Regions from separate parts of the Homo sapiens genome. Here region 2 is linked to region 1. A link means that fine-mapping ties the variant in region 1 to the plasma level of a protein whose gene starts in the linked region. Region 1 holds a variant in brackets. A gene starts in the other region. All regions are shown on their reverse strands. Region 1 overlaps LOC105373281 (a long non-coding RNA gene). Region 2 holds the start of PALM (paralemmin).

Evidence for each region. A credible set is the group of variants that fine-mapping cannot tell apart. PIP is the chance, under the fine-mapping model, that this variant and not a neighbour inherited with it causes the effect. Protein levels are from antibody-based Olink assays in UK Biobank. Linkage for the fine-mapping came from a reference panel and not from the study's own genotypes, which makes the PIPs less certain.
Region 2: PALM starts here. The variant in region 1 is the best candidate, but not a certain one, in a credible set for the plasma level of the PALM protein (UK Biobank, PIP 0.59).

Annotation. Positions count from the first base shown.
Region 1 is chr1:223,673,722-223,679,088 of GRCh38, reverse strand. It overlaps LOC105373281 (a long non-coding RNA gene), which reads left to right. Exons shown (of 3, transcript XR_949164.2): 3 at 1,007-1,271. Among named protein-coding and RNA genes, the nearest start is that of CAPN8, 11 kb to the right of the region's middle. The variant C/A (reference allele first, on the strand shown) is at 2,411.
Region 2 is chr19:705,883-711,249 of GRCh38, reverse strand. PALM (paralemmin) reads right to left here and starts at 2,315. Exons shown (of 9, transcript NM_002579.3): 1 at 2,099-2,315. The coding sequence starts at 2,103. RefSeq lists a silencer at 3,069-3,305 and an enhancer at 2,758-3,318.

The DNA.
Region 1 (5,367 bases):
AGCTGCCGTGTCATGATAACATTGAAACAGCCTAAGGAGAGACTTACGTAATGAAGAACCGAGGCCTCCTGCCCATGGCCATGCGAGTGAGCCATCCTGATAGGAGATCCTCCCACCACAGCTGAGCCATCAGTTGACTATAGCTGCAGTCGGTGTCTCATGAAAGTCTTAGAGGTCAGAACCATACAGCTAAATTCCCAAATTCCCTATGCACCGAAATGGTAAGATAATAAATATATGCTGTTCTAGACCACTGAATTTGGGAAAATTTGTCATCTGCAAAAAATAAATAATATATGTGTTGATCTGTCTTACATTAAATTGATAGTCACTAACTCAACTGGCCCTTAATGCCACCTGGCAGCATCATGTCTCTTATCCAATTTTCAATATCACTTATTTTATTTTATTTAAAAATTTTTTTGAGACAGAGTTTCGCTCTTGTTGCCCAGGCTGGAGTTCAATGGTGTGATCTTGGCTCACTGCAACCTCCACCTCTCAGGTTCAAGTGATTCTCCTGCCTCAGCCCTCCAAGTAGCTGGGATTACAGGTATGCACTATCATGCCTGGCTAATTTTGTATTTTTAGTAGAGATGGGGTTTCACCATGTTGGTCAGGCTGGTCTCAAACTCTTGATCTCAGGTGATCCACCTGCCTTGGCCTCCCAAAGTCCTGAGATTACAGGCATGAGCCACCATGCCCGGCCAGATCACTTACTTTATACCTCCTCTCTCTCTCTCAAATCTCCAACACCTCTGCCCCATTCTCACTCTCAGCTAATGCCCTTCACTCCTATTTCCAAGAGAAAGGTCAAAGCACTGAAAACAGAACTTCCCAAGGTCCAACTGTGACATCTATCCTCACACTGTGTCTGCCATCTACCCTGTGACAAGGGATGAACTGTCTGTGTCCTAAGGCCAACCTCTCCCCTTGGGCTCTAGATTTGATTTCCTCTTGGCCACTCAAAAACATCCCTCCTGAAATTCATCCCCCTCTCTATTTCTAGGTGGAAAGAGCATCGACCTGAGTCCAATCAGCTACTTACAGGTCAACTAAGAAGAGGACTGAGAGTTAACCATTGGATTGAGCAACATCAAGACCACCTGGATATTGGCCAATGGTTTTACCCTGACCATCTGCCCAGAGGGATGGTAAGAGAGAAAGGCAGGACAGAAATGAAAGGACAGTGAGAATACACACCACTTTCATGAAATTTTGTTGTGAAAAGAAAGGAAGAGGCCCGGCATGGTGGCTCACATCTGTAATCCCAGCACTTTAGGAGGCCAAGGCGGGCGAATCACCTGAGGTCAGGAGTTCGAGACCAGCCTGGGCAACATGGCAAAACCCCGTCTCTACTAAAAATACAAAAGTTAGCCAGGCATGGTGGCATGGGCCTGTAATCCCAGCTACTCAGGAGGCTGAGGCGGGAGAATCGCTGGAACCCAGGGGGCAGAGGCTGCAGTGAGCCGAGATCGTGCCACTGCACTCCAGCCTGGGTGATAGAGCAAGACTCAAGGTAAAAAAAAAAAAAAAAGAAAGAAAAGAAGAAACAGGACAGGGGCATGGAGTCAAGAGAGATTAAACATTTTCTTTTTTTAAGGCAGGAGAAACTATAGCAAACTTGTATGGGAAAGAAAACGATCCAGTAGAGACAGAGAAAACTGATGCAGGTGCATCTGTGGCTGCTTGGCAGCAGGAACTGAGGTCAGGGAAGCATGTGATATAGTGACATGCCCAGCAAGAACAACCTCAAAGTACACTCGTAAGTCCCCATATTGCATGTGGAGCTCTGTGAAGGGTTGCACGATGAACTTGAGAGAGACACAGTTCCTACCTTCATGGCCTTGTTTTCTAAGACTAGGTCAGAGGACTCTCCACATTTATGCCCTCTCTTTTCTATTGTATTGTATTTTATTGTATTGTATTGTATTGTATTGTATTGTATTGTATTGTATTGTATTGTATTGTATTTATTTATTTATTTGAGACAGGGTCTCACTCTGTCACCTAGGCTGGAATGCAGTGCCTATTTATGGGCATGATCATAGCTCACTACAGTCTTGACCTCCTGGGCTCAAGCAATCCTCCCAACTCAGCTTCCCAAGTAGCTGGGACTACAGGTGTGTACCACCACACCCAGTGAATTTCTTATTTTTTGTAGAGACAGCAGTTTTGCCATGTTGCCATGGCTGGTCTTGAACTCCTGGGCTTGGCCTCCCAAAGTGCTGGGATTATAGGCATGAGCCACTGCACCCAGCCTGTCCCTTTTCTAGCTAGTAGTTTTCTTTCAGAGGAAATCAAAATATCTCCCTATTTACGCTAAATATGAGTCCTGAACTGTTACAGCTTCTGGGGTAGATGAGGTTAGGGTCTCTGTCAAATGCCAGCATTCAGAGGCATATAAGAAGCA[C/A]TCACTGTTTTCCTCTATTCACAACACATTTCGCTTCTGACACCAGATGTGTGGGTTTTTCCCCCACACTGAACAATTTTCCAACACCAGCTGGGTGTCCTACAATTTAACTCAATTCTGACACTAATTGCCTGGAGTTAGAACAAGTTAATGGCTCAGTCCTACAAGACCATCCCCACTTCAGAGCCCAATCATAAGTGGTGGGTCCCCAGGTCACCCACAACTTCTGTCTGACTTGGTTACAAATTGGAGGTTCCCACGACCTCCTCCTCATGTTCACTAATTTGCTAGAATAGTTCACAGAAAGCAAAGAGAAAAGTTACTAAGTTATGGGTTTATCATAAAACGATGCAATTCAGGAACAGCCAGATGGGAGAGATGCACAGGGCAATGACATGTCTTGGCTGTGTCCCTACTCAAATCTCATCTTGAATTGTGACTCCCACAATTCCCACATGTTGTGGGAGGTAACTGAATCATAAGGGTGGGTCTTTCCCATGCTATCCTCTTAATAGTGAATAAGTCTCATGAGATCTGATGGTTTTATAAGGAGGAGTTCCCCTGCACATGTCCTATTCTTGCCTGCCACCATGTAAGATGTTCCTTGCTCTTCTGCCATGATTGTGAGGCCTCCCCAGCCATGTAGAACTATGAGTCCATTAAACCTCTTTCCTTTACAAATTATGCAGTCTCAGATATGCCTTTATTAGCAGCATGAGAACAGACAAATACAGGCAAGGTATGGGGAAAGGGGTGCAGAACTTCCATGCCTTCTCTGGGCACACCACCCTCCCAGCACCTCCATGAGTTCAGCAGCCTGGAAGCTCTCTGAATTCTGTAGCTCAGGGATTTTTTTTTTTTTTTTAGCTGTGACCTTGCCTTTCTCTCTCTTTCTCTCTCTCTCTCTCTCTCTTTCTCTCTCTCTCTCTCTCTCTGTGTGTGTGTGTGTGTGTGTGTGTGTGTGTAGATTTCTTTCTTTATTATTATTTTTTAAACTTTTATTTTAGGTTCAGGGGTATATGTGCAAGTGCTGCGGTTTGGAGTTGTGTCCCCACCCAAATCTCATGTTGAACTGGAATTGCCAGTGTTGGAGGAGGGGCCTGGTGGGAGGTGACTGGATCATAGGAACAGTTTAATGGTTTAGCACCATCCCTCTAGTGCTGTTTTAAAAGTGTGTGGCACCCCTCCTTCCTCTTGCTCCCACTATGTAAGATGTGCTTGCTTCCCCTTTGCCTTCTGCTGTGATTGTAAGTTTCCTGAGGCCTTGACAGAAGCAGAAGCCTATACAGCCTACAGAACTGTGAGACAATGAAACATCCTTTCTTTATACATTACCCAGTTTCAGGTACTTCTTTATAGCAGTGTGAGAATGGACTAATAAAAAAAATTGGTACCAGAGAAGTGGAGCATTGCTATAAAGGTACTTGAAAATGTGGAAATGACTTTGAAACTGGGTAATAGGCAGAGGTTGGAAGAGTTTGGAGGGCTCAGAAGAAGACAGGAAAATGAGGGAAAGTTTGGAGCTTCCTAGAAACTTGTTGAATTGTTGTGGCCAAAATGCTGATAGTGATATGGACAATGAAGTCCAGGCTGAGGAAGTCTCAGATGGAGACCTCTCAGATGGAGCTTATTGGAAACTGGGGTAAGGTTACTCTTCCTATGTGTTAGCAAAGAGACTGGCAGCATTATGCCCCTGCTCTAGACATTTGTGGAACTTGAACTTGAGAGAGATGATTTAGGGTATCTTGAGGGAGAAATTTCTAAGCAGCAAAACATTCAAGATGTGACTTGGCTGCTTGTAAGAACCTACAGTCACATGCATAAGGAAATAAATGATCTAAAACTAGAACTTTTATTTAAAAGGGAAGCAGAGCATAAAAGTTTGGAAAATTTGCAGCCTGGCCATGTGGTAGAGAAAAAAAAAATTTCAGAAGAGGAATTCAAACCAGCTGCAGAAATTTGCGTAAGTAAAGAGGAACTGAATGTTAATAGCTGAGACAATGGGGAAAATGCCTGGAAGGCATTTCAGCAAACTTCATGGCAGCCTCTCCCTTCACAGGCCCAGAGGCCTAGGATAGAAGAATGGTTTTGTGGTCTGGACCCAGAGCCCCACTGCCCTGCACAACCTCGGGACAGTGCTCCCTGTGTCCTGGCGGCTCAAGCTCCAGATATGCCTCAGGCAGCTGCTCCAGAGGGTGCAAGCTGCAAGTATTGGTGGCCTCCACATGGCATTAAGCCTGTGGGTGTGCAGAGGACAAGAGTTAAGGCTTGGGAGTCTCTGCCTAGATTTCAGAAGATGTATGGAAATGGCCGAATGTCTAGGCAGAAGTCTGCTGCAGGAGTGGAGCCCTCATGGAGAACCTCTACTAGGGTAGTGCAGAAGGGAAATGTGGGGTTGAAACCCCCATGCAGAGTTTCCAGTGGGGCACTGCCTAGTGGGGCTGTGAGACGAAGACCACCATCCTCCAGACCCCAGAATGGTAGATCCACCAACAGCTTGCACTGTGCACCTGGAAAAGCCACAGGCACTCAACACCCTTGAGAACAGCCATGGGAGCTGAGCCCTGCAGAGCCACAGGGACAGAACTGCCCAAGGCCTTGGGAGCCCAGCCCTTTCACCAGTGTGGTCTGGATGTGAGACACAGAGTCAAAGGAGATTATTTCAGAGCTTTAAGATTTAATGACTGCCCTGCTGGGTTTTGGACCTGCATAGGGCCTATAGCTCCTTTGCTTTGGCCAATTTTTCCCTTCTGGAAAGGGAGTAATTATCCAATGCCTATACCCCTATTGTATTTTGGAAGTAACTAACTTGTTTTTGATTTTACAGGCTCATGGGTGGAAGGGACTTGTCTTGTCTCAGATGAGACTTTGGACTGGACTTTCGAGTTAATGCTGAAATGAGTTAAAACTTGGGGGACTGTTGAGATGGGATAATTGTATTTTGCAATGTGAGAAGG
Region 2 (5,367 bases), not on the chromosome of region 1:
TCTCTCCGAAGCAGAGATTCTCCCCAGCTCCTTCCTGGACGTTCTCCTCACCTTGGCAGCATCGGCCCTGTGGTTAGCAACCCGCTAGTTCTCCTTAAATCCTCACATTAACAAAAAATAACCTGTTCTTGAATGACATTTAAAATTCTTTAAATTCTTAAATTCATTTGTGAAACTTTCCAGCGAGACGGGCACCACCACAAACCACAGCCAGCTCCCGTGTCTTCGACTGGAAAATCTGTGGAAACGGGAGGAGGCAAGCGATCACGTTCTAGCGGACGGGGCCTTCGTGCCTGAAGCCCGCCGGGGAGAAGAACGAGGGGGCAGGTGTCCAAGGCCGGGCGGCACCAGATGGGCCTGTCCCCACCCATTGTCAGCCCGGGAACCGGGGAGAGAGTCGTCCTCGAATGGCGGCTCACAGCAGCCGGTTAACACTGGGTGCCTGTCCCATGTCTGCATCCCCAAAAGCAATGATGACCCAATGGGGGACCTGTGGGCCACCCTCTGACCCAGGACGGAGAAACCGTGGAGCAGAGCAGGAGGCACCGAGGCCCCCCGGCCCCAGGTGCTGTGTGATGGAGGGGGGGTGGGGGGGGGGCAGCAGCTCCTCTCTGGGCCTCAGTATCCCCCGTGGGAAAGGAAGGGGTGGCAGGAAGGAAACAATGGGCCCGACCCGGAGTGTTCGCTGACACCCCTCCTCTGGGAGGGAGATCTCCGTCGTCCTCCTAGGCAGCCCCCTCCCCACAGCCACACCCTGCCCAGGCCTGGCTGTCAGAGGCCCAGAGGCTCCTCCGGGGCCTGGCGAGCAGGGCAGATAAACAAGGCTGGGGGGTGGGGGTGTGGAGCAGGCAAGTCTGGGCCCTGGCTCCCCTGAGCCCCTGGCTGAGCTCCCGGGGCGGGGTGACGGGGAGAGGGGTCAGGCCTTTGTCTGGGTTTTCAAAAGCAGAGGACACTGGGTGTCTCGCTTTCCCAGGGAGGGAGGGAGGCAGCGGCCCCCACCCAGCCGCGGGCGTGGCGGGTCACGGGTGAATCCCCGGGGAAAGTTGGCGGCTTAGAAAACACGCCCAGTGGGAAGGGCAGGGGGCCACAGGCGGCCTCCAGATCCGGTCTTCGGTCCTCGGGCTGGGGTGGGGACCCGGGCCTCAGCAGGGCAGCTGGCTCCCCTGTCCTGAAGTGGGCAGGTGGGTGACCCCAGGAGGAGCCTCCTGACCCCTGCCCGTGCAGTGCCCACCTGTGGGAGTGAGGGGCAGAGGGGCACCCGAGCACCGGGAGGAGGGGACCGGTGTCCGAAATGACCACGCGCCCTCGCTCGGTGCCTCCACTGGCCACCCCCCCCCCACACACACAGGCGCAGCCATGCGGGGGTCCAGGGATCCCAGCCCAGGGCCAGCCCACTCCTGTAGCTACACCAGTGGAGCCCCAGCTCCGAGACACTTCCCCGAGAGGGTATCCCACCCAGGCGCCCCGCTGGAAAACGCCGGTTCCTCTCCCTTCTCACACACCCCAGAGACCCGGGAAGCCGAGGGCAGCCCCTCTCCCTCCAGCGGTAACTCGGGACCTGCGCAGTGGCGGGGGGCTCAGGACACCCCTGGAGGCCCTTGGGAAGGGCGGGGGTGGGGGGCACCGGCCCGCGCGCGCGTCCAGGGCGCCAGGAGCCGTGCGCTCAGACTGGGGCGGGGGAAGGGTGCGTGAGCGCGAGGCCGGACCGGTGCAATCTGGGGAGGGGTCGCTCCATCTCCCCGGGGCCACCCACAGGTGGCCGAGAGCCGAGGCTCGCCCTGGAGACGCGGGCGGGGCGCGGGCGGAGACGCGAGCCTCCCCCTCCCCGCGTCCTGGACTGGCCCGAGCCGCCGCTGCCCGGGTCCCCACGCGCCGGTGGGTGGGCAGCCGGGGTCCGGGAGCGGGGAGGCCTCCCGGCAGGCGCGGCCCAGCCCGAGTCTCTTCCCGGCTGCGCTGCGGCCCCAGCAGCCCCGCGCCGCCTCCTGCTCCTCGCGGGGGCAGCGACGCCCCCAATGGGGCGCGAGAGAGGGGGCCTCCCCCCTCCCCGGCTCCCGGAGCTCCGGGCCCCCAGCCCCGCGGCCCGAGCGCGCCTACTCACTCCATCTCCCCGCCGAGGTCCGGGTGGGTCCGCGGTGCCGGGCGGGGGCGGGCGCGGGTGGCGCGCGGGGGAGGGGAGGGGAGGGGGACGCGGCCTGGCGGGGGCCGGGGCGGGCTAAGGCCTGGCGGCCGGGGCTGCGCGGCGCGGGGGCGGCGGCACCGGCTCGGGCATCGCCCCGCGCAAAGCTGCTGTTTATTGTCCGGGCGGCGGCGGGCGCGGGGGGTGGGCTGGGCGCGCGCGTCTCCGGCGCGCTCCCCTCTCCCTCCCGCCCGCCCCGCTCCCCGCCCCGCTCCCCTCCCACCTCCCCGCGCTGCGAGCGGGCGCTGCGCCTCCTGCCGGCTGCGCCGCCGCCGCCCCCCGCCCCGCGCGCCCCGCCCCGGGGCACCCCTGAGAAGGGCCTAGGTCTGGGCGCGGTGCTGGGACCCGGCTGTCACCAAGTCCCGCCCCTCCCCAGCTCCTGGGCCAGAGCCGGGACCCTCGCGAAGTCAGACAAGCAAAGGCCTTTCTCGAGAGCCCAGACGCCGAGAGGGACACACATTTCAGGGCGAGCGAGGGGATAGGGGGGTCCTGGGGAGGCCGCTGCGAGGAGCTGACAGCTCCCTGCACCCCCGGCCCCGCTCGCAGGGTCCCCAGGCCTCCTTTGCCGGAGTATCTGGTGGAGGGCGCTGTGCCTGCAAAGGCCGGGGGTTGGGGTGGAGACAACCGCAGGTGCTGATCTGTCTGTGCCCTGGCTGGGAGCTGAGCCTGGTCCCCGGGGCTGGAATTTAATCGGCCCCAGGGCCCCCATGGCACACTCACTAAAGGCCCAGCGACCAGACGACCAGAGTGAGTGAGAGGGACGGTGGAGAATCAGGGAGAGCTCAGGCTTTGTCCTCAGAGCACTGGGGAGCCACAGCAGGAGACAGGCAGGACCTGTCTTCCCCAACATGTAGGCCTTGGGCCCAGCTTCCTGGTTTCCCGTGAGAACACTGCAGACCAGCCCCAGCACACCTACTCATGGGGGTCCAGGGTGGGCAGGAAGGAAAGATTCTTCCAAACTTCTTAGTTTTCTTATAAAACGGTTCTCCTCTGCCGATGTTTGCTGAATGGCTGTAGATTTAAAGGAAAGTAGCCCCGGATGAGCTGTGGAGAAAGATACGGCAGGATGTACCCCAGGCTGAAGAAGGCCGTCAACACCTTTTCTTTATTCCTCCCTTTTTACAATGAATGTGTATTCATTTTAGCATTTAAGACAATAAGATAAATTAGCAAAGGTTAACAAAGCTAAGATCCTAAAGAATATCAGGGGTCCCGGGTCTGTCTGATTCCCAGCTCACCCATCTCCAAGCTGTGTGACCCTGGGTCTGTTTCTCAACCTCTCGGAGCCTTATTCCCCCCCACCCCCCTGCCCCCACCCTTAAGGCTGTGGGAGGGTTAACTGAGTGAGCACACACAAAGGGCTTGGCACAGGGCCCAGCACACACTAGCTCAGGGTTTGGCAAACTTTTTCTGTAAAGGGCCAGAGAGTAAATATTTTCAGCATTGCAGGCCACAGTCTCTGCGGCAATGACTCTGCTCTGCCATCGCAGAGTGAAAGTAGCCAGAGACAATATGTAAAACCATGGGCATGGCTCTGTGCCCATAAAACTTTATTTACAAAAACAGGCAGTGGGCCAGAGCTTATCCCAGGGCCGTAGTGTACTGACCCCTGCACTAGGCACCCAATAAAACTTTATTTACAAAAACAGGCAGAGGGCCAGAGCTGATCCGAGGGCCGTAGTGTACTGACCCCTGCACTAGGCACCCAATAAAACTGACCTGTGAGTCGTTTCTTCACTTCCCCTTGGCCTCTGTGTTCTTTTAGTCCAAAGTGATTTATTGAACACCTACTGTGTGCCTGGCACCGTTAGTCACCTGTGATGCAGAAGTTCCATTTTTGCGGCCAGGCGCCGTGGCTCACGCCTATAATCCCAGCACTTTGGGAGGCTGAGGCTGGTGGATCACGAGGTCAAAAGTTTGAGACCAGGCCGGGCGCGGTGGCTCACGCCTGTAATCCCAGCACTTTGGGAGGCTGAGGCTGGTGGATCATGAGGTCAAAAGTTAGAGACCAGCCTGGCCAACATGGCAAAACCACTTCTTTTTTTGGCTGGGGTGGACGGAGTTTCGCTCTTGTTGCCCAGGCTGGAGTGCAATGGCGCGATCTCGGCTCACTGCAACCTCCGTCTACCAGGTTCAAGCAATTCTCCTGCCTCAGCCTCCCTAGTAGCTGGGATTACAGGTGTGAGCCACCACGCTCGGCCAGTGAAACTCCTTCTCTACTAAAAATACAAAACTTAGCTGGGCATGGTGGTGCGCGCCTGTAATCCCAGCTACTGGGGAGGCTGAGGCAGGAGAATGGCTGGAACCCGGGAGGCAGAAGTTGCAGTGAGCAGAGATCGCGCCACTGCACTCCAGCCTGGGTGACAGAACAAGACTCCATCTCAACAAAACAAAACAAAACAAAACAAAAAAGAAGTTCTGTCCTTGGAGAGACGGTGATTTTTGTCCCCTACATAAATGATTCAGGGTGAATGAAGTGACTGTTACATGTAATCCCAACACTTCAGGAGACTGAAGCAGGAGGATCACTTGAATCCAGGAGGTGAAGACCCTGGGCTACCTAGTGAGACTTCCATTTCTACAAAAAATTAAAAATTGGGCCGGGCACAGTGACTCACGCCTGTAATCCCAGCACTTTGGGAGGCTGAGGTGGGCAGATCACCTGAGCTCTGGAGTTCGAGATCAGCCTGAGCAACATGGAGAAACCCCGTCTCTACTAAAAATACAAAATTAGGCGGGCGTGGTGGTGCATGCCTGTAATCCCAGCTACTCCAGAGGCTGAGGCAGGAGAATCACTTGAACCTGGAAGGCGGAGGTTGCAGTGGGCCGAGATCGCACAATTGCACTCCAGCCTGGGCAACAAGAGCGAAACTCCATCTCAAAAAAAATAAAAAATAAAAAATAAAAATTAGCTGGGCACGGTGGTGTGTGCCTGTGGTCCCAGTTACTTGGGAGGCTAAGGTGGGAGGATCGCATGAGCCTGGGAGGTTGAGGCTACAGTGAGCCGTGATCATGCCACTGCACTCCAGCCTGGGCAACAGAGCCAGAACCTGGCTCAAAATAAAATAAATGATTCAGGGCCAGACACAGTGGCTCACACCTGTAATCCCAGCACTTTGGGAGGCTGAGAAGGGAGGATCACTTGAGCCCAGGAGTTTGAGACCAGTCTGGGCAACACAGAAAGACCCCAT